3 linked regions of the Homo sapiens genome follow. The protein of the gene in region 1 interacts with the protein of each later gene in a pairwise test. Each region holds a gene or a part of one and is shown on either strand. Other genes may lie near its edges.

What was found. The genes of interacting proteins can lie anywhere in the genome.
Region 2: the proteins of STOM (region 1) and TNFRSF10C interact in binary tests that used the Homo sapiens proteins (3 or more experiments, as listed by UniProt).
Region 3: the proteins of STOM (region 1) and CLRN2 interact in binary tests that used the Homo sapiens proteins (3 or more experiments, as listed by UniProt).

Annotation. Positions count from the first base shown.
Region 1 is NC_000009.12:121,360,246-121,367,277, forward strand, and holds part of STOM (stomatin), read right to left. Parts: intron 6,001-7,032; exon of another isoform or gene 5,871-6,000; intron 1-5,870. UniProt on the Homo sapiens protein: Regulates ion channel activity and transmembrane ion transport. Regulates ASIC2 and ASIC3 channel activity.
Region 2 is NC_000008.11:23,112,909-23,117,965, forward strand, and holds the end of TNFRSF10C (tumor necrosis factor receptor superfamily member 10C precursor), read left to right. Parts: intron 1-1,748; coding exon 1,749-1,862; intron 1,863-2,599; coding exon 2,600-2,708; intron 2,709-3,732; coding exon 3,733-4,123; 3' UTR 4,124-4,537; downstream 4,538-5,057. UniProt on the Homo sapiens protein: Receptor for the cytotoxic ligand TRAIL. Lacks a cytoplasmic death domain and hence is not capable of inducing apoptosis. May protect cells against TRAIL mediated apoptosis by competing with TRAIL-R1 and R2 for binding to the ligand.
Region 3 is NC_000004.12:17,518,153-17,525,184, reverse strand, and holds part of CLRN2 (clarin-2), read right to left. Parts: intron 2,322-7,032; coding exon 2,142-2,321; intron 1-2,141. UniProt on the Homo sapiens protein: Plays a key role to hearing function. Required for normal organization and maintenance of the stereocilia bundle and for mechano-electrical transduction.

The sequences.
Region 1 (7,032 bases):
TGAAAATTATCTTATGGCACTTATATCTTGTCTAATCTTTTATTTTTTATTTATTTTTAATTGACCTTCCAATGTAGGATTTTAATCTTTTATTATTTTTTAATCTAATATTTTAATTTCTTGTGCATTTATATCCCTTATTACACTGAGATTCCCTGAGAACGAGGAGTAACTATGTTTGAATTTCACTTCTGATACTTCTTAGTTGCATGATCTTTACCTCTTTGAACCTTAGTTTCCTTACCGGTGGAAAGTAAAGATTATTAGGCTGGCCTTGTAGAATACAGATAAAATGATCAGTAAATGTAGATGATAGTTTTCTGTAATCCTTCTATTTTACTTAAGTGTTTGTATCTTCATGAAGAAAAATGGGAAAATAGCATTTACCCTTTTTGATCAAAAGCCTCTTAAACAATTTAATTTGCCATTTGCTTCATACCTGCCCCCAGTCTGGCTAGGCTGGGACATTCAAAGACTCTCAAAAAGTTCATTTATGATCTACATGAGGACAAGCCAAAAAGTTCAGCCCAGTTTTTTTTGTGTCAGTTCCCATGTCACATTGTGTTTTTGAGAACCCCAGATGTGTATATGGGATTGCAAATCACCAGGAACAAGGAATTAAGTACACATTTTGAAAACTGGATTTGGTCTTTCACATATCAAATGCTTGGCTAGAAATAATCAGTGTATACACTGGGAAAATGGCACTTTCATATTTTTCTAATGACTTTAAAATGAAAGTATCCTACCTTCACCTCTCAAAATTCTTCCCCACCTGGTTACCCCTCAAAAAGGTACACAGTATCTAAGTTGGGAATGCATCACTAGAGTTCTGAGACTGAAATCTGATGTTTTTACAGAGGAAGCCCTCTTAATTCCAGCTGTGTCTATTTATAGCATGTTGTGCTATAAATGCATAGCTCAGAGGTGAGGCTTAAACTCTAGCAGGCTTATAAATGAACCCTTAGTCATCTACCACTTCTGGGAATAAGAGAAAAGAAATTCTCACTCACTAAAATCTCAGGAAATTCATTTCCTTCAAGTTTCCCATGTATTACTTTAGGACTGAATCCTTCCTACCAGTTTTATGGGGAAAGGGACAAATAGTGATATTTTGGTTAATACACTTGTGGACTTTTTTTTTTTTTTTTTTTTTTTTTTTAGATGTAATCTCACTCTGTCGCCCAGGCTGGAGTGCAGTGGCGAGATCTCGGCTCACTGCAAGCTCTGCCCCCTGGGTTCACGCCATTCTCTTGCCTCAGCCTCCCCAGTAGCTGGGACTACAGGTGCCCACCACCATGCCTGGCTAATTTTTTGTATTTTTAGTAGAGACGGAGTTTCACCGTGTTAGCCAGGATGGTCTTGATCTCCTGACCTCGTGATCCTCCGGCCTCGGCCTCCCAAAGTGCTGGGATTACAGGCGTGAGCCAATGCACCCGGCCACTTGTGGGTATTTTGCTGGTTGAGAATGTTCCTAAAAATTAGGGATCCTATGATACTTGGTTGTAAATACTACTTTGCCATAGTTTAGAGCAATGGTCCCCAACCTTTTTGGCACCAGGGACCAGTTTCGTGGAAGACAATTTTTCCACAGGAAAGGGTTGGGGAACATGGTTTTGGGATGAAACTGTTCCACCACAGATCATCAGACATTAGGTTCTCATAAGGAATACACAACCTAGATCCCTCATATGTGCAGTTCACAATAGGGTTTGTGCTCTTATGAGAATCTAATGTTGCTGATCTGATCCGTCTGTGGCCTGGGAGTTGGGGACTCCTGGTTTAGAGTATTTTTTTTTCTTTTATTACCAAAATGGCAGTAGAATAAACTTTTAACTAATCAAAGAAGGGTCTGAATATGGACATAAGCCTGTACATTTGAATTTTTGTATTGAACATTCAAGTTGGGCTTACCTCCAGGAAACTCACATACATTTTCTAAAATTGCTTTTTTACTTTAAAAGCAAAAGTTACTATAAAAATTAGAAATGATAGCTCAACAAACAGAAACATTATCTATACTTTATCTCTGGATGTTTTTTGCCTTGATATACGTCTTTTAAACCTTTTCTAGCCTGTATTTTTTCAATAATGAAAGAATGGTATACACAGTGATTTAAAATCTTCTCCCTCCCATCCATGTTATGAACATTTTTTCATATCAGCACATATTCTTTATCATTATTAAAGATTAATTAATTAATTCCATTTTATATGATGAAATCTGTTGTGTCCAAATTTCTCACTTAGAAACTGCTGCATTGAATATATATTTAGCAGTGTTTCTGTACCTGCTTATTTCCTGTGTAAGTTAATTTTTCTGAAAAGATGAAATTATACAACTCTTAAAATTCTCTCATTCTGAAGGTATCTTTTGTTACTACTCCTAATAACTACCATTTATGAATTCCTATGACATGTTAGCCACATGTAGCTCCTCCTTACATACATGAGTATTTATAATGTTTACAAAAATCTGTGAAGTAGGTGTTAAAATATGCCTCCTGAAGTTCTAAAGTAATAAGGCTAAAGACCTTGTAGGAAGAAACAAAAGAAAACCAAGCAAACCATGAAACAAATGAAATTTGTTGTGTAGTAATTTTTGTTGGGTAAGTTTCTGGAAAGGCAGTTAAACATTCTTTCCAAGATGACAACACAGGCTGATTAGTCCAGAGGGCTGTAGTTGTCCCCGTTCCCCATCAGCTGATTTACTTTCAGATCTATTAACCTTAGCACTACTGGAAATCATGTGGAGTAATAAATCCACTCATCACTGAGATTTTATTATTGTAAAGTTCAACAGATAACTGGATTTCCTCTGCTGAGAATCTGACTGTGAGTCATAAGCATTATCCTACACAATAAGAAAGGATGGGCTAAGGAATTACTGAAATACCTAAACTGCCACTTTTTAACGGACACTTTTTTCCTTCTGCCTTCACAGAGTGCAAATAAAACACTTCATGTTGTAAATTGATGAGAGCAGTCCTGCCTGGATGGGGCAAGACAGAAAGGCTGGAAGTTTAGTCTCAAAAACACATGCTATTCAGTTGCAGCAGCACTTTTTAGGGGTAACAGTAGGCCAAATTGAAAAGTCTTGGCAATTTTTGAACTTTCTTCTTAAAAACATATGTATTCAGGATTAAGTGTTACTTTTGGCCACTATGATTCTTCATCAGTGATTCTTTGTCAGGATTGGCAAACTTTTCCTGTAAAGAACCAGGAACTAAATATTTTGGGCTTTGCAGTCTGTTGCAACTACTCAACTCTACTTTTGCAGTGCAAAAGAAGCCATAGATAGTACCTACATAAACAGCACAGCTGTTCCAATAAAACTTATGGACATAAATCTGAATTTCACATAATTTTCATGTGTAATGAAAAAGTATTCTTTTGCCTTTTTAAAATCATTTAAAAATATAAGAGCTATTTCATAACTTGTGGGACATACAGAAACAGAGTCAGCTAGATTTGGACAATGGGCTGTTACACGCTGTTCCTGTTTTATGTCAGCCAACTATTTATTTGAGGAGGAAGACTTGCATAAATTAAATAATGCATTTGATCTTTCTTCCAGCTATTCAAATAAGGGTACATTTCCCAGCTTCTCAGTTTCTCCCTTTTGCTTATTTTGAAGCAAGGCCTTTATAAGGCCTGATAAACAAAAACTCCTGGTGAAAATAAGCAAAAGGGCAGGTAGAGTAAGTGAATATAAATTCCTCTTCAATTAATCAAATTTTTACTATAACTAAGTTTTTCAAATGACTGGAATTTTAGGAGAAAAAGACAAAGAAGGGAAGGACATAGCAGAAGCGAAGGAAAATAAGAGAAATAGAAGGAGTAAAAATGGGAGAAACAAAAATGAAGACAGAATCCTACAAAGAGAGATAGATTAAAAAAGCTAGAAGTGAGAAAGAGGCAGAGTTTACCACATGGTAGCGTCTCGATAAACGTATGTTAAAAAATGATAGTGTTTCATTAGAGATCAAAACTTGCAATTCATTTAAGGCAGAAGATTTCAAAGCAAACAAGCACACACACATTATAGCCTGCCTTTCAAATTAGTATTTTAATTAGGCACGGCTTAGTTGTTCGAATGCCCTTATCCTTAAATCTCTAGAGAAGAAATTATTCTTGGGGCTAGAGTAGCTACAGGCCAGATGGTATCAAGTTAAAAACCATGAGTGAAGACTGTAACTTTTCCTCCCTATTAAAATCCATCTATAGTTATAAATGCTAGACCAAAAGAACTGATACTGATGAAGCACTATGTGGTTTGAATTACAAAGCTTAAAATGTGTTTACTGTGAAATACTAAGGAAAACAAATGGACTAATACTTCTAAGAAAGATTTGCAATAACAGTTATTCTTTGCTTAGCTCAAAAAGAATAAGGAAAGTAAATAAGCATAAATGTCTTATTTCCTAAATATTTTAAGGATTTTCTGTAGTTTTCCTGCATTCAAATGTTTCAGGCCATACAAGAGGAAAAAAATAGGTGAGAGCAACAGCAATAATTTTAAATTTGGACCTCTCAGTCTAAAATAATGCTGCAATAGCCCTTTACCCTTTTAAAACAACATTTATCACACTTGTAATTATTCTATTCAGTTGTGTGTCTTCATGAGATTTTGGTTTTATGAAAACAGTATAGCATAATAGGTTCACAGATGGCTCTGCCACTTACTAGCTGTGTGATCTTGAGAAAGTACCTTATTATTCAACTGTGCCTCAGTCTACCCATTGAAACATAGGGCTAATAAGAGTACCTCCTCAGGTTAGTGTGATGAGTAAATAAGCTAATATGGAAGACACTTAGTGTATATAACAGGTACTCAAAAAACATTTGTTAAATAGTTGCTGGATGAGTTGAGTGTGTTGTTTTTTTGGGGAAAAGAAAAAAAAAAGACTGCCTCTCACATAAGACAAACTGAAACAGCAGACAGGATCCTGGGATACAGTACAGAACCATCTCCTGCCCAAGCAGTTGTCAACTGCTTTCCTCAAGTATTTTCTTTTTAAAAAAAAAATCAGACCTTTTCCAACCATGACGTTAGAGAATTCAGGAAAGCAGAAGAATGGGCTGAACATGGCCCATGTCTGGAAGCACCAAAACATTTATGTTCAGGAAAATTGGAGAGAAAAACAATTTCATAATGGGTATTAAGTTAATTAAATTTCATCTAGGCCTGAAATACATGAAAACAGAACAAAAACCCTCCCACTTTTTAGGTTTTTTTTTTTTTTCCCAGCTCTTTTACTTGGACATCTTAAAATTATTCACAATTAAGTTTTTCTCATATAAGTCTTTGGAGGGTAACATCGTTTTCATTTAAAAATGGGAAATGGAAGCAGAAGAAAACTAGATGATAAAGTTCTCAGTTCTTCACTGTGATTAACAGCTAAGCAGTGGCTAAAAGCTTGCATTTTTGGTGTTAGATTCCAAATCTACCACTAAATTTTCTTATCAGTAAAATGGGGAAAAGAACAGTATTTATTTCACTCAGTTGTTGTGGAGATAAAACGAGAAAATATGTAAAGGGCTTGACACTTAGGAAGTATTCAACAAGCAGTAGCCATTATTATTACCACAACTTTAAGATCACTATTGATAAGTTTAGAGGAAGAAACTTTTTATGAAGTGAATTACCTTTTGGGATCTGGGCACTATGGAGAAAATATCAACTAACAATCTGCTTGGGGACTCTATCTCTGGAGGAGAAACAGACTACACTTGGGGCAGTAAGTCAGAGTTCTAAATGTTCTTGGACCATCCTTCATACAAATCTCTTAAGTGATGGTAGGGTGATCTCAACCTAAATCTTTTAATTATAAATTCCACTCTCATTTCACTATATTCTACTACCTTACCATAGTGCTCACTTTAACTGGACCACAAGTTCAGTATAGTTTTCATTGTCTGAGACTTTAGGACTTTATTGGTTGTATCTTCAAGGATAATCTTCTGAAATGTGAGGCCAAATGCTTGGAGTTCAAGTTTCTTTAGTAGTCCCAGCAGACAGAGAAAGATTAAAAAAGAATGTAGCAACAAGTGTGTGTCAATAGAAAATTATTTTAATTGAAATGATCTATTTTAATTATCAACAAGTGTGTGTCAATAGAAAATTATCTATTGACACACACTTCCTTCTTTCTACTAACCATGACCTCTAAACTTCTCTTTCCATGCTTTAATAAATAAAAGGAGATTTCTTATTAAGGACAATATATTATCTTGGCAATTATAATCCTTTTATTGATAATATAAACCCAGACAAATAGTCTATCTGTAATAATATATAATAAACATAATGGCCATGCCCTAAAATCAACAGCTTAAGTTATAACAAACTTAATAAAATAAATGGTAAACAGAAAAACTGCTCCACCAACATAAGGCTAAGGCAAACACTTAACAATGTTATTTACTCCAGGGGGATTTTTATCTCCCTGCCTGCTTCCTTTTTCTTTGAACAAATGTTTTTGTATACCTACTATGTACTTGATACTGGGCTACTACAGTGAAGAAGGACACAATCTCTATTTTCAAAAGTGTGGTCTAAAGGCCAGGCTTGGTAGCTCATGCCTGTTGTCCCAGCACTCTGGGAGGGTAAAGTGGGATCGCTTGAGTCCAGGAGTTCGAGACCAGCCTGGGCAACATAGTGAGACCCTGAGTTAAAAAAAAAAAAAAAATTAGCTGGGTGTGGTGGTGCATACCTGTAGTCCCAGCTACTCGAGGGGCTGAGGTGGGAGGATCACTTGAGGCTACAGTGAGCTATGACTGCACCATTGCACTCCAGCCTGGGCAACAGAGCAAGACCCGGTCTCAAAAAGAAAAAGTGTAGTTTAATTATGGGAGGGGAGGGGACAGATGAGTCAAACTGATAAATATGTTATGTAATAAACATTATGATAGAGATATGCACAGGATACCAGGCAGACGCAGGGAAAGGGTATTCACTTTTTTTGTAGTTACAATAGTTTTCAGGAAATTGCTTTTCCATGCCTTCTTAAAAAAACTGATTTTGAATTC
Region 2 (5,057 bases), on another chromosome or scaffold:
GGCTGTACTAATTTCCATTCCCACCAACAGTGTACCAGCATTCCTTTTTCTCCCCATCATCAACACTTGTTACCTTTTGTCTTTTTGGTAATAGCCATTCTTACAGGTGTGAAGTGATATTTGGCACTTGATGGTTAGTGATGCTGAGCATTTTTTTCATATACTTTTTGGCCACTTCTATGTCTCCTTTTGAGAAGTGTCTATTCAGGTCCCACGCCCATGTATCCATTTTACTTGGATTATTTGATTGTGTGCTATTGAGATGTTTGAGTTCCTGTGTATTTTGGATTTTAACCAAAATCTTGGATCTTTTGAATATTGACCCTCATTCTGTAGGTTGTCTCTTCACTCTGTTCATTGTTTCCTTTGTCATGCAGAACCTTTTTAGTGTAATGTAACCTCATTTGTCTGTTTTTCCTTTTGTTGCCTGTGCTTTTGGGGTCATAGTCAAGAAACCATTGCCCAGACCAACATCATGAAAATTTTCCCCTATGTATTCTTGTGGTAGTTTTACCATTTCAGATCTTATGTTTTAATCTTTAGTCCATTTTGAATTAATTTTTACATATGATGTGAGATAAAGGTCTTATTTCATTCTTCTGCATGTCAATACCTACTTTTCTCAACACCATTTATTGAAGAGCTGTCCTTTCCCCATTTTGTGTTCTTGGTATCTTTCTCACAATCAATCAACTGTAAATGCATTGATTTATACCTGGGTTCACTATTTTGTTCCATCAGTTTATTTACCATTGTTGTGCCATTACCATTCAGTTTTGATTACTATACTTTTGTAACACGTTTTAAAATCAGGTAGTACGATGCCTCCATCTTTGTTCTTTTGTTTGTTTTGCTTAAGATCACTTTGGCTATTTGAGGTCTTTTGTAGTTCCATACAAATCTGGGCGTGGTGGTGCGTCGCCTATAATCCCAGCTACTCGGGAGGCTGAGGCAGAAAAATCGCTTGAACCAGGGAGTTGGAGGTTGCAGTGAGCCGAGATTGTGCCACTGCACTCCAGCCAGGTGACAGAGCAAGACTCTGTCTCAAAAAAAAAAAAAAAGACACATGAATATACATAACAGTCAGGATGTCCTGATGGGAACCATGAAGAATAGTTAAGTGACAGGAGATAGACAAGGTTGGTGGGGCCTCTCGGGGATGGTGATTTGGGCTGATATTTAAAGTTGGACAGGGCCAGTCTTGCAGAGAGCCAGGAAGAGTGCTCTTGAGAAGGCCCTGAAGGAATGAGAACCCCAGGTTTCGGGGGCTTGGGGAGACTGAGCGAAGACAGGGGGCCACTGTGGTGAGTGGACAGCAAACAGGTCAGGTGGACCAGCATGGGCAGATCACATGTACAGTAGGTTGGATGTTATTTTGTGAGTGACGGCGTAAAAAAAGTAAAATATCTCAATGATGTGTATTGATTACATGTTGAAATGTAGTATTTCAGATATTTTAGGTTAAAACTATATTGTTAAAATTAATTTGGCCTCATTCTTTTTACTATTTTAATATGGCTCTCATAGAATTTGAATTTTGCATAGAATTTGAATTTTGTATTATATTTCTGTCAGCAGTGCCAGTCAAAGGTATGTAATAGATGCTGAATGGATGACAAGACCAAGCCTGGAAGAGTGGATTTCTCTGTCTCAATTCCAGTGAGGGCCAAAAAAGAAGTTTCCCCACCACTGTCAGCCTCTGGGAATTCTGTGGTGACTCATTCATTGGCTTTTCTCTTCCTTCCCAGGATCTCATAGATCAGAACATACTGGAGCCTGTAACCCGTGCACAGAGGGTGTGGATTACACCAACGCTTCCAACAATGAACCTTCTTGCTTCCCATGTACAGTTTGTAAATCAGGTACAGAATGTGTGGACCTCTTGTCCAGAGGTGGAGCGTGGGGCAATGAGGTGGGAGTTGTAGCCGATATGAGTCAGGGAACCAAGTTCCAGCCCAACCTGGTCTTCATCACCCTGTTCTATGATTATATATTTGACTGATTAAAAAAATAGAAAGAAATCTTTTCTATAATGCATGCCACCTGGCTGGGAAATCGTCTAAACTGTCAGCTGCAAGAGGGTGGGGGGATCATTAGAGCATAGAGAAGGCCTGGCCCAGTGGACAGGGCTAGGTTTCAGTAGTGGCACGGGTCTGCTCCAGGGCCAGGCTCTCTCCCCCAGGCTCTGTGCTCCTGGCAGGTGCTCGGCCTCACTCAGCCTTCAGGTTCTCAGGCCCCTTCCTCCTCCCCAGCAGGCCCAGGCTTTGGGGAAGTCCCCCAAGGCCTCCGTCTCCTTGCAGAGTCTCTCAGGTGATGCCCTTGCACCTCCCTTGCTACTGACCATGCCATCTAAACAATGCTTTTCCCCTAATCTGATGTAATAAATAATGAATTATGCTCCTTTTTATGACTCCTCTGAGTGCTGGTGACAGCTGAAGGGTGGGTGTCCTGTATGAGCCCTGAGTGTGCTGGTGCAGAAACTGGCCCTTAGAACTCCTTGGTGAACTTGGTTGAGCTGAGTGGGAGGGGGTGGGTGGTAAGGAAGATCGAGGGATACATCAGGGAAACACATTCCCAAAACCTTATGCTCTGTTGTCAGATCAAAAACATAAAAGTTCCTGCACCATGACCAGAGACACAGTGTGTCAGTGTAAAGAAGGCACCTTCCGGAATGAAAACTCCCCAGAGATGTGCCGGAAGTGTAGCAGGTGAGACAGCAGTCAGGGGCTCCTGACAGCTTTCAGGAACCCGAGAAGACCTGAGTCACCTGGTACCCCTATTTCTCCGCTGACCCTATGGAGCCTCCAGACCCATGGGGTGTCCCTGAGCCTGTGGGGTCTCTTGGGTCTGCAGTGGCCGCTCCTGGTCCATCTGCCTGTCCCCACCCCTACCCCCTGCAGCAGCCCCTTCCCAGACCCTCCCCAGCACGAGTCCCCTTGGCCAGACCAACTTGTTCACTGGGCACAAGAAGCAACTTTCTGGATCCCTTGATCCTTTTCAGCAAACCTAGGAAATGCGATTTCCTTTTGAAATGAGAAGAAAACACTTGAATCCAGTCTGGGTTGTATTTGTTGCTATACCAAGCTGTTTTAAAAAATGTTCTTTTTAATATTTTTTATGCAGGCAGGACCCATAAAGACAAAAGTGGTCACGGCCGACAAAAGTCATAAGAAGGCTGTGGGTGGAGCTCCTTCAAGTTCCCATGAAGGCCTGAGCCAATCCAGCCGGCCTCACCCCTGGCCCCAATCCCTCAATAAGTCCTGTCTTTTCCCTATTTGGGCTTTAAGGGCCAAGAGTAATTTGTTCTTCTCTGGCCCCCTAATGTTTGCCGTGATAGGGAGGAACCAGCAGACAGTTGGGGGTGAGAGATCACTTGTACTGTGGGTTGACTGGAGGAAGGGGCTCAGCTTGTGGCCACAAGGGCTCGTGACCTTCCCCTGGAGTGTGGCTCCTCCTAACGCAGGCCTCCTCTGCAGCCCAGGGAAGCTCAGTGTGTGCCCGGCACAGAAGGCTCCTGTGGCCCCAGAGCAGGGAGGCTGAGGGGCTGAAATGCGCATGCTCAGACCCTTCCCCAGCCTCAACGAGGGAACTTGGGGGACCCCCTCCAGACAGGAGCCTGTCCTTCCCCTGACACCTTCTCAGGGACATTGGAGAGGGAGGGTGGCTCCCCTTTTATCCCACCTGGCTAGCTTTCCCTCAGGAGTCCTCACCTCCCTCTCTGTGTGTACCCAGGTGCCCTAGTGGGGAAGTCCAAGTCAGTAATTGTACGTCCTGGGATGATATCCAGTGTGTTGAAGAATTTGGTGCCAATGCCACTGTGGAAACCCCAGCTGCTGAAGAGACAATGAACACCAGCCCGGGGACTCCTGCCCCAGCTGCTGAAGAGACAATGAACACCAGCCCGGGGACTCCTGCCCCAGCTGCTGAAGAGACAATGACCACCAGCCCGGGGACTCCTGCCCCAGCTGCTGAAGAGACAATGACCACCAGCCCGGGGACTCCTGCCCCAGCTGCTGAAGAGACAATGATCACCAGCCCGGGGACTCCTGCCTCTTCTCATTACCTCTCATGCACCATCGTAGGGATCATAGTTCTAATTGTGCTTCTGATTGTGTTTGTTTGAAAGACTTCACTGTGGAAGAAATTCCTTCCTTACCTGAAAGGTTCAGGTAGGCGCTGGCTGAGGGCGGGGGGCGCTGGACACTCTCTGCCCTGCCTCCCTCTGCTGTGTTCCCACAGACAGAAACGCCTGCCCCTGCCCCAAGTCCTGGTGTCTCCAGCCTGGCTCTATCTTCCTCCTTGTGATCGTCCCATCCCCACATCCCGTGCACCCCCCAGGACCCTGGTCTCATCAGTCCCTCTCCTGGAGCTGGGGGTCCACACATCTCCCAGCCAAGTCCAAGAGGGCAGGGCCAGTTCCTCCCATCTTCAGGCCCAGCCAGGCAGGGGGCAGTCGGCTCCTCAACTGGGTGACAAGGGTGAGGATGAGAAGTGGTCACGGGATTTATTCAGCCTTGGTCAGAGCAGAACACAGAGATTTTCCGTGTGTTGGTTTTTACTCTAGTTCCCCTTCTCATCCCCCTTCCTCAGGGTGTCCCCTAATTGCAAGGCCCCATTCCTGTCCCCAGCCCCAGGGCTCCTTGTCCAGTGTCCCAGCCCCCAGCCCAGCCCTGTGCCCCACTGTCCTCTGGGAGGGAGGTGCTGCATGGGCCCCTCCCCACCTGCTAAGGAGACTCGTTCTCTTCCAAGTGGTGAAAGGGCCCCTGAGCGTGTAGACAGAGTGACTTGGTTTCTCCAGAAACTGGAAGCCTCATGGGCTGAGGAACTGCCTCCCACCCACAGCAGAGCCCTGGCGGACACAATCCCTTTTCCTCATGGCTGCCCTGACTCTCTGAAGTGGCTTGGGGTTCTGGGCTGACTGTGGGGGACACATGGCCATCTTGAGCATCACACAGACCGGCGGGTCCTGCTGCAGTCCTGTCCTTCCTGTAGTCTTCACTCCACAGCCTCACTCCACAGTGAGTGACCCTCACTGGACACCCTCACTCCACAGCCTG
Region 3 (7,032 bases), on another chromosome or scaffold:
TTTTTTGATATTATAAAGTGCTACAGCAAATACCATTTTATGTACATCCTTGTTCTCTTGTCCAGTATTTCCTTAGCATAAATTCAAACATGGAATTGTTTAGTCAAAAGATATTCAAAGGCTATTCACCTTTTTCTGCCTTCTGACACTACAGTGTTGTTGTTTTTTTAAGCTCAGTGGCAAGAAATAAAGTTTTGTCAAAAGACATAAAGCTTTGCCTGTTTTTATTTTTTATTTTTTGAGACAAGGTTTCGCTCTGTTGGCTGAGGCTGGAGTGCAGTGGCATGATCACGGTTCACTGCAGCCTGGACCTCCCAGGCTCAAGCAATCCTCCCACCTCAGCCTCCCTAAGTGTTGGGATTATAGCTCTCAAGCAGCTGAGACTACAGGCACCGGACACCATGGACAGCTAATTTTTTTTTTTTTTTAGAAATGGGGTCTTGCTGTGTTGCCCAGGCTTTTTTGCCTGTTGCTAATACTCTCATCAGTAGAGTCTGAGAGTGCTATCTCTCTAAGGAAAGGAATGGACAGAGATAAATATTTATTTAATAAGCAGCGTTGAGCACTTTTTACATGACAGCCTCTGTGAGGATTCATGCAGATGAGGAAGACACCTGTAGTCTTGATGAGGGTAAGCCATGTATGTAAACAATTCTACAGGGTGGCTACCATCTGCAAACAAAGGCAAATACATAATAATTGATTGATTGATATACATTATAATACATAATAAAATAACATTACCTGTTTTTATATTATTCTTGTATAAGGTAATCATAGCGAGGGATTATTGTTCTAATGGTACCTTGAATATTTGACCTGAGTTTTCTGTGACAGCCCTCATTTCACAAGATTCTGTTATTTTCATTACAGATGATTTGTTAAGTGCATAATTAAATGTGAATTAATTTCTGTGCATCAATATACTCCCAAATCAACATGCGCGCGCACACACACACACACACACACACACACACACATCTTGTAGTTTTTGGCTTGGAAAACAGGTCATGATGGTCATAAATGAGAGCATGGATCTGTGGAAAAATAAAGAGCTTAGAATCAGTTACACCTAGGTTGGAATACCACCTCTGCCACTCATTGTGGTGCGACTGTTTAACTTCTCTGAGCCTCAGGCTCTTCATCTGTAATTGTGGGTCTAATAATACCTCCCATAGGGATGTGGTGAGATTTAAATGAAGCAATGCATGCAAAATCTCCAGGTCCCTGCCCAGCCCTTAGTGGTTGCTCAGTAAGTTGCATCTAGTTTAAGGGCATGGTGCAGTGAAGGTGTTGGGGAGGTGAGAGGAGGGAGAGTTGAGACAGCCAGTGAGCCACGTCTGCATTAATATGCCCAAGTGTGTGTGTGGGGGGAACACCAAAGACCTTGGCAACTAGATGGCACTCACTTCCCCTTCTCAACCCAGAGCCTGAATGGAGGAGCCTTTCACGAATGGCCTCTTGCTCACACTACCCTTCTCTTCTGTCATTTGTGGAGTTCCTCCCAGCCTTAGCTGCAGCACCAGCTCCATCTCTTTCCCATCTCAGGGCCCCCACCTCTCCCTACTTCCAGCTCTCTGTCTTCTGGCTTCTTCTTTCACCTCGATCTCTCTTCACTGCTCTAAGCCCTCAGCCATTCACGTACTCTAATAAGATGCTTCTTTGTTGTGACAGACTCTGCAACTTAAAGAGGAAATTCTTGAGCACTTTGGGAGGCTAAGACAGGTGGATCCCTTGAGCTTAGGAGTTTGAGACTAGCCTGGGCAACATGGTGAAACCTGTCTCTATAAAAAATACAAAAAATTAGCTGGGCATGGTGGTGCACGCCTGTACTCCCAGCTACTTGGGGGCCTGAGGTGGGAAGATCACTTGAGCCCAGGAGGTCAAGGCTGCAGTGAACTGAGATCGCACCACTGCACTTCAGTCTGGGTGACAAAGTGAGACCCTGTCTCAAAGAAAAAAAAAAAAAAAGAAAAAGAAAAAGAGGACATTCATTCCATGCCCATCAAGAAGGTCTTAGACCCAGGAAGGTCAAGGCTCCAGTGGGGCATTTTAGTTCCTTCACACCTTCTGCCCAACTACTTGGAGCCCAGCCCTATGATGGTGTGGACATAATTTTCTCTCCCTAAGGGACTTCTTACCTGCCAGGACATTCCATAGGCAGATGCCCCCAGGACCGCTGACTGCCCGGTACGGGACCTGGATCATGTTAAGAATGGCAAAGCCCATGCTGACCAGAGCCAGGGCCAAGGCCAGGAAGAGGAGCAGCAGAATCATCACATGAAGGCCTGCGTTGAGCTCCTTCACCAGGTGTGGGAAGACTGGGGAGACAAGACACAGCCACTATTTCAATGTCAGAGTTAGACTCACTTTCATGAAGTCCAAGCTTGCTTACCACGAAGGCTTCGACAGACAGGGGTGAGGGCAAGACAGCAAGCGTGGGGATTTCAAACAGCGGGAGACTTTCTGAGATGAACTCATGGCCCCCAGATTCATGCTTGTCAGTTGACCAACAAGCCTCTGTTCCTTAGAGTGGACACAAAATCAAAATATGCCCTGGCTGTCAATTTAAGTTGCATTGAGCTTGAAGCTCTGGGATCTGATGTGAACTGATGCACACAGGCCCCAGTGACTTAGCAAGGTAGACCCTGGCTTATCCCCATGTATGAAGGACACATAATTCTCACGTTGCACAACGTTTTATTAAAATATTAATTTGCCTTATGAGTATGGCAAAATAAGTTAGTGAAATCTTAATTCATATTTGTTTTCTCTATGTTTGCCAGCAGTACCAGCTGTGAAGATGAAATGACATAACATAATAGAGTAGCTCAAATAGTGCCTGGGAAAGTCAGTTCTCAAAAATGGCAGCTGTGGTTATTGCTGTTATATTTTGACAGTCTTGGGAAAGTCATGTGACTTCTCAAGCCTCAATTTCTTCATCAGTACAATGGGGATAGTAATCCCTGCATATGAATTGAGGATAATCAACATTTACTAAGTGCAGTCATGGGCCAAACATTTTACATCGTCATCTTGTTCAATGTGCATGACAAAGACATGAGGTAGATTTTATAAACTCCTTATACCCACAGGCTTGGAGACATTAATTGCTTGTGTTTGGGGAAGGCAACTCTTAATTCTATATAAGATTATAGTTCAATATACTATGAGAACAAATGTGACCCTGAAAGAGCCCGTCCTTCAAGATGGGTCCTGAGTGGTTAACTGGCTCTAAATTTAAAGTAGGGCCAAGTGGCCATTTACTGACTAGGGGGTCACACGCATCTTCTGAGTTCCTTGAAAACCCACACCTTTTTATCTTTGAGATCTGCCTCAGCCAATCAGGGCTCAGCTGTAATGACCAATCGGGGCTCAGCTGTACCAGCTAATCAGGGTTCAGCTGTATCCACCAATCAGAACTAAGTGAATTTGAATCCTTTATTTACCCAAACAGACCTGACTGGAAACCTGGGTGGGAACTTTTGCTATAAAATCTGAGCCTTCCCTTTCTTCTCTGGAATACACCTTCCTTTTACACCGGAGGCTGTGTTTCCCTGGTTTGCAAACCGTTAACTGGAATAAATTCTTTACTCCAAATTCCTTTTCTGAGAACTGTTGTTCACAACTGTATGGTATCAACAGTGTCAAGTCATGATCTTTAGTAGTTTTACATGAAGAATTGAACATTATGAAAGCTACAGAACTTCTGAGCATACTCATTCCTCTGCAATTGCTCCAAGGTTCCTGCTGAATACCCACCCTGATGGAACTAGTTCCTTTGCTGGTTCACCTGCCTCTCTTAGTCACTGAAGGTTGGCGTCTCCCAGTCCTGAGAACTAGAGTTTTTGTTTTTCCCGTTAGGTGTCCCGTTAGGTGACACATTTTCAGGCACTCCACGTTTACATTGTGCGTTCTGATGTTTCTTTCCAGTTCTGAATTTCCATTTATTTTTATCTCCCTATGGTTATCTAATCAGCATTGGAAACTTTACCCTGGAAGATGAGCTCCTTTCCAGTGAGTTTGTCTTTGTAAAGCGTCTTTCTTCCCTGTGCTTCTATCCCATCTTAATGTCCCTTAGATTTTTTTTTTCTCTTTTCAAACTCTCAGCCCCTTTTTGTTTCAGACACAGTAGCTTGTGCTGATATTTATTTATTTTTATTTTTAAAGACAGAATCTTGTTCTGTCACCCAGGCTGGAGTGCAGTGGCACCATCTCGGCTTGGTGCAACCTCCTTCTCTCTGATTCAAGCAATTCTCATGCCTCAGCCTTTCCAATAGCTGGGATTACAGGCACCCGCCTCCATGCCTGGCTAATTTTTGCATTTTTAGCAGGGACGGGGGTTTCACCATGTTGACCAGGCTGGTCTCAAACTCCTGGCCTCAAGTGATCTGCCCGTGCTGGGATTACAGGCATGAGCCACCAGACCCTGCCGCTTGTGCCTGATTTTTAAATTGTTTCATTATCCCCTTTCTTAACCAGGCAATCCTTAGGACACACGACTAACATAGTAATGCTTACCAAAACTCTTACAATAGAAAACAGTCACCTATGTGAATGGTAAAGATCAAAATGTTTGCTAAAACACCGTGTTGACAATGGTGTAAGGAAGAGGCACTCTCAAGTCTCATAGAAATATTAATTCATGTAACCTTGTTAGAGGGCAATTTGGCAACATCTACTAAAGCAAATTCACTTCTAGGAATTTATTTTCCAGAAGCACTCCCACATGTGCTCAAAGCGTGGATCAAATATTGGATATTCATTACAATAGCAAAAGATTGGAGAAAAAACAGTATGTGAATAGACTGATTTAATAAAGTATCCATAATGTCCATAATGTATATAATTCATCTTTTAAAAAGAAAGAATTATATCCACATAATGATTGAAACCATATCCAGATTTGATTTTTAAAAATTGAGAAATAATCATATTAGGATGACGGGGGAGAGGGAATTTGGGGAATGTGGAGTGATGTGGAGAGGGTGGTAAAGAGTGCCCAGTCCTCGGCCTTCATAGTAGGAAGTGCATTAACTATAATTAAAAAATACTTATTGGCAAAGGGCAAATCTCACTCAACCCCCACATTCTTGGGCCATAACACAGGGCTCAGGACCTCATGTTTAATAGAGATTTTATTATTTTTTAATATATGTCATTATTTAGAAATTCGAGGCTGGGGCAGTGGCTCATGCCTGTAATCCCAGCACTTCTGGGAGCCATTATGGGGGGATTGCTTGAGGCTAGGAGTTGGAGATAAGTCTGGGCAACATAGCAAGGCTCTGTCTCTAAATTAAATTATTTTTTAAAAAAGAAGAAAAAAGTAGAAATTCAAATCATTTCTCAGGAGTGTTAATGCACCAGTTCTTTCTACTTTCTCACTGAGAGGTGACTCTGCCTTAGCCTGACACCCAGTGCTGCCCTAGGAAAGCTGTTGCTCACTTGCCTTTCACATTTGAAATCCAGGTTCCAAGAGTTTTAGATGTCTCCCACTAGGAATTAAATTTAAGTTTCTAGCTTGAAATCCATGACCCTACACACGACTCATGGTGATAAATGACAACACGATTCATGGTGATAAATGACAACAGCCACCTATATGGGGTGCAGACTATGTGCCGGTGGCTTTATACATATTCTTTGTTCTGTTGCTCATGGACACCCTCTCTCATGCTTACAAATGAGGAAACTGAGGCTCGGAGAAGTGAAATAGCTTAGCTACGCTCCCACAGCAAGAAAAGTGTCAGCTTAACTACTCTATTACAGGGCTAGAGCAGAAAAATCAGAAAGCACAGATAAGTAGAGGTTTAAAATTCTAAACATAGAGTCTTTTGAATCCTGGAGGTCTCATTTTGAATTTGAATAGATATAGTTGTTTCCTACACATTAGAGGCAACTCACTTGAAAGCAGAATTGATTAATCATTCTATCAGCATCATTCTATCAGCATATGATGCATCTATCAGCATCTATCAGCATATGATGCATCTATCAGCATCTATCAGCATCTAAGATAATTTGTTTGCTCCGAATCCCAGAGAGGTCTGGCAGTCCTTTTCGCCCCAGCAGGGCAAATAAGAAAAGCAGGACATCTGAAGTCAAACCCAGGTCCTGGCCACTAGTGGAATACCTGTGAGGCAGGAAGTAGAGAGGAACCAGAGAACTAAAAGCTGCAAAGCAATCTATTACATTAGGTGCTTTTAAAGAAATTATTTTATGTATCGATTTCTCTGGTCTCTAATTTCCTCATCAGTAAAATGGGCGTAATAAAATCTCTTCTCTAGCATAGTAAAAATGGAAGGAAATGAACTACAAGGCAATGGCTTCAGATACTGTGTTCTGTGCCTAGTATATATTTATCTGCCTCTCCTTTATCAGATGGTAAATTTTTCTTTCTTTTTCCTTTCTCTTTTTTTTTTTTAGATGGATTTTCACTCTTTTCACCCAGGCTGGAGTGCAATGGCACAATCTTGGCTCACTGCAACCTCCACCTCCCAAGTTCAAGTGATTCTCCTGCCTCAGCCTCCTGAGTAGCTGGGATTACAGGCACCTGCCACCACGCCCGGCTAATTTTTGTATTTTTAGTAGAGACGTGGTTTCACCATGTTGGCCAGGCTGGTCTCAAACTCCTGATCTCAGGTGATCCACCTGCCTTGGCCTCCCAAAGTGCTGGGATTACAGGCGTGAGCCACTGTACCCGGCCAGATGTTAAGCTTTTCTAGGGCAAGTACTTGTCTGGTTTGTTCATCCCTGTTTTCTTAAGAGCCTGGTCTGTAAATACTCCATAGTACAATTGAATGTGTGGACAATGCTAAAGTAATGTTTGTCTTTTTCTTTCTCTAGCCACCCAAACAGCCATGTTGACTTGTTTTTATTTCATAGGGCCTGGGTATAAAAAAAGGACCTTAATCTTTGCGATGGATAGTTCTTTGGTTTTCTCCATGATTGGCGTGGGAATTTATTCCCCTGGGTGATTTTTTGGGGAGGCCTCTGTGATGAGAAAAGTGGCTGTTTGTGAACGAGACCCAA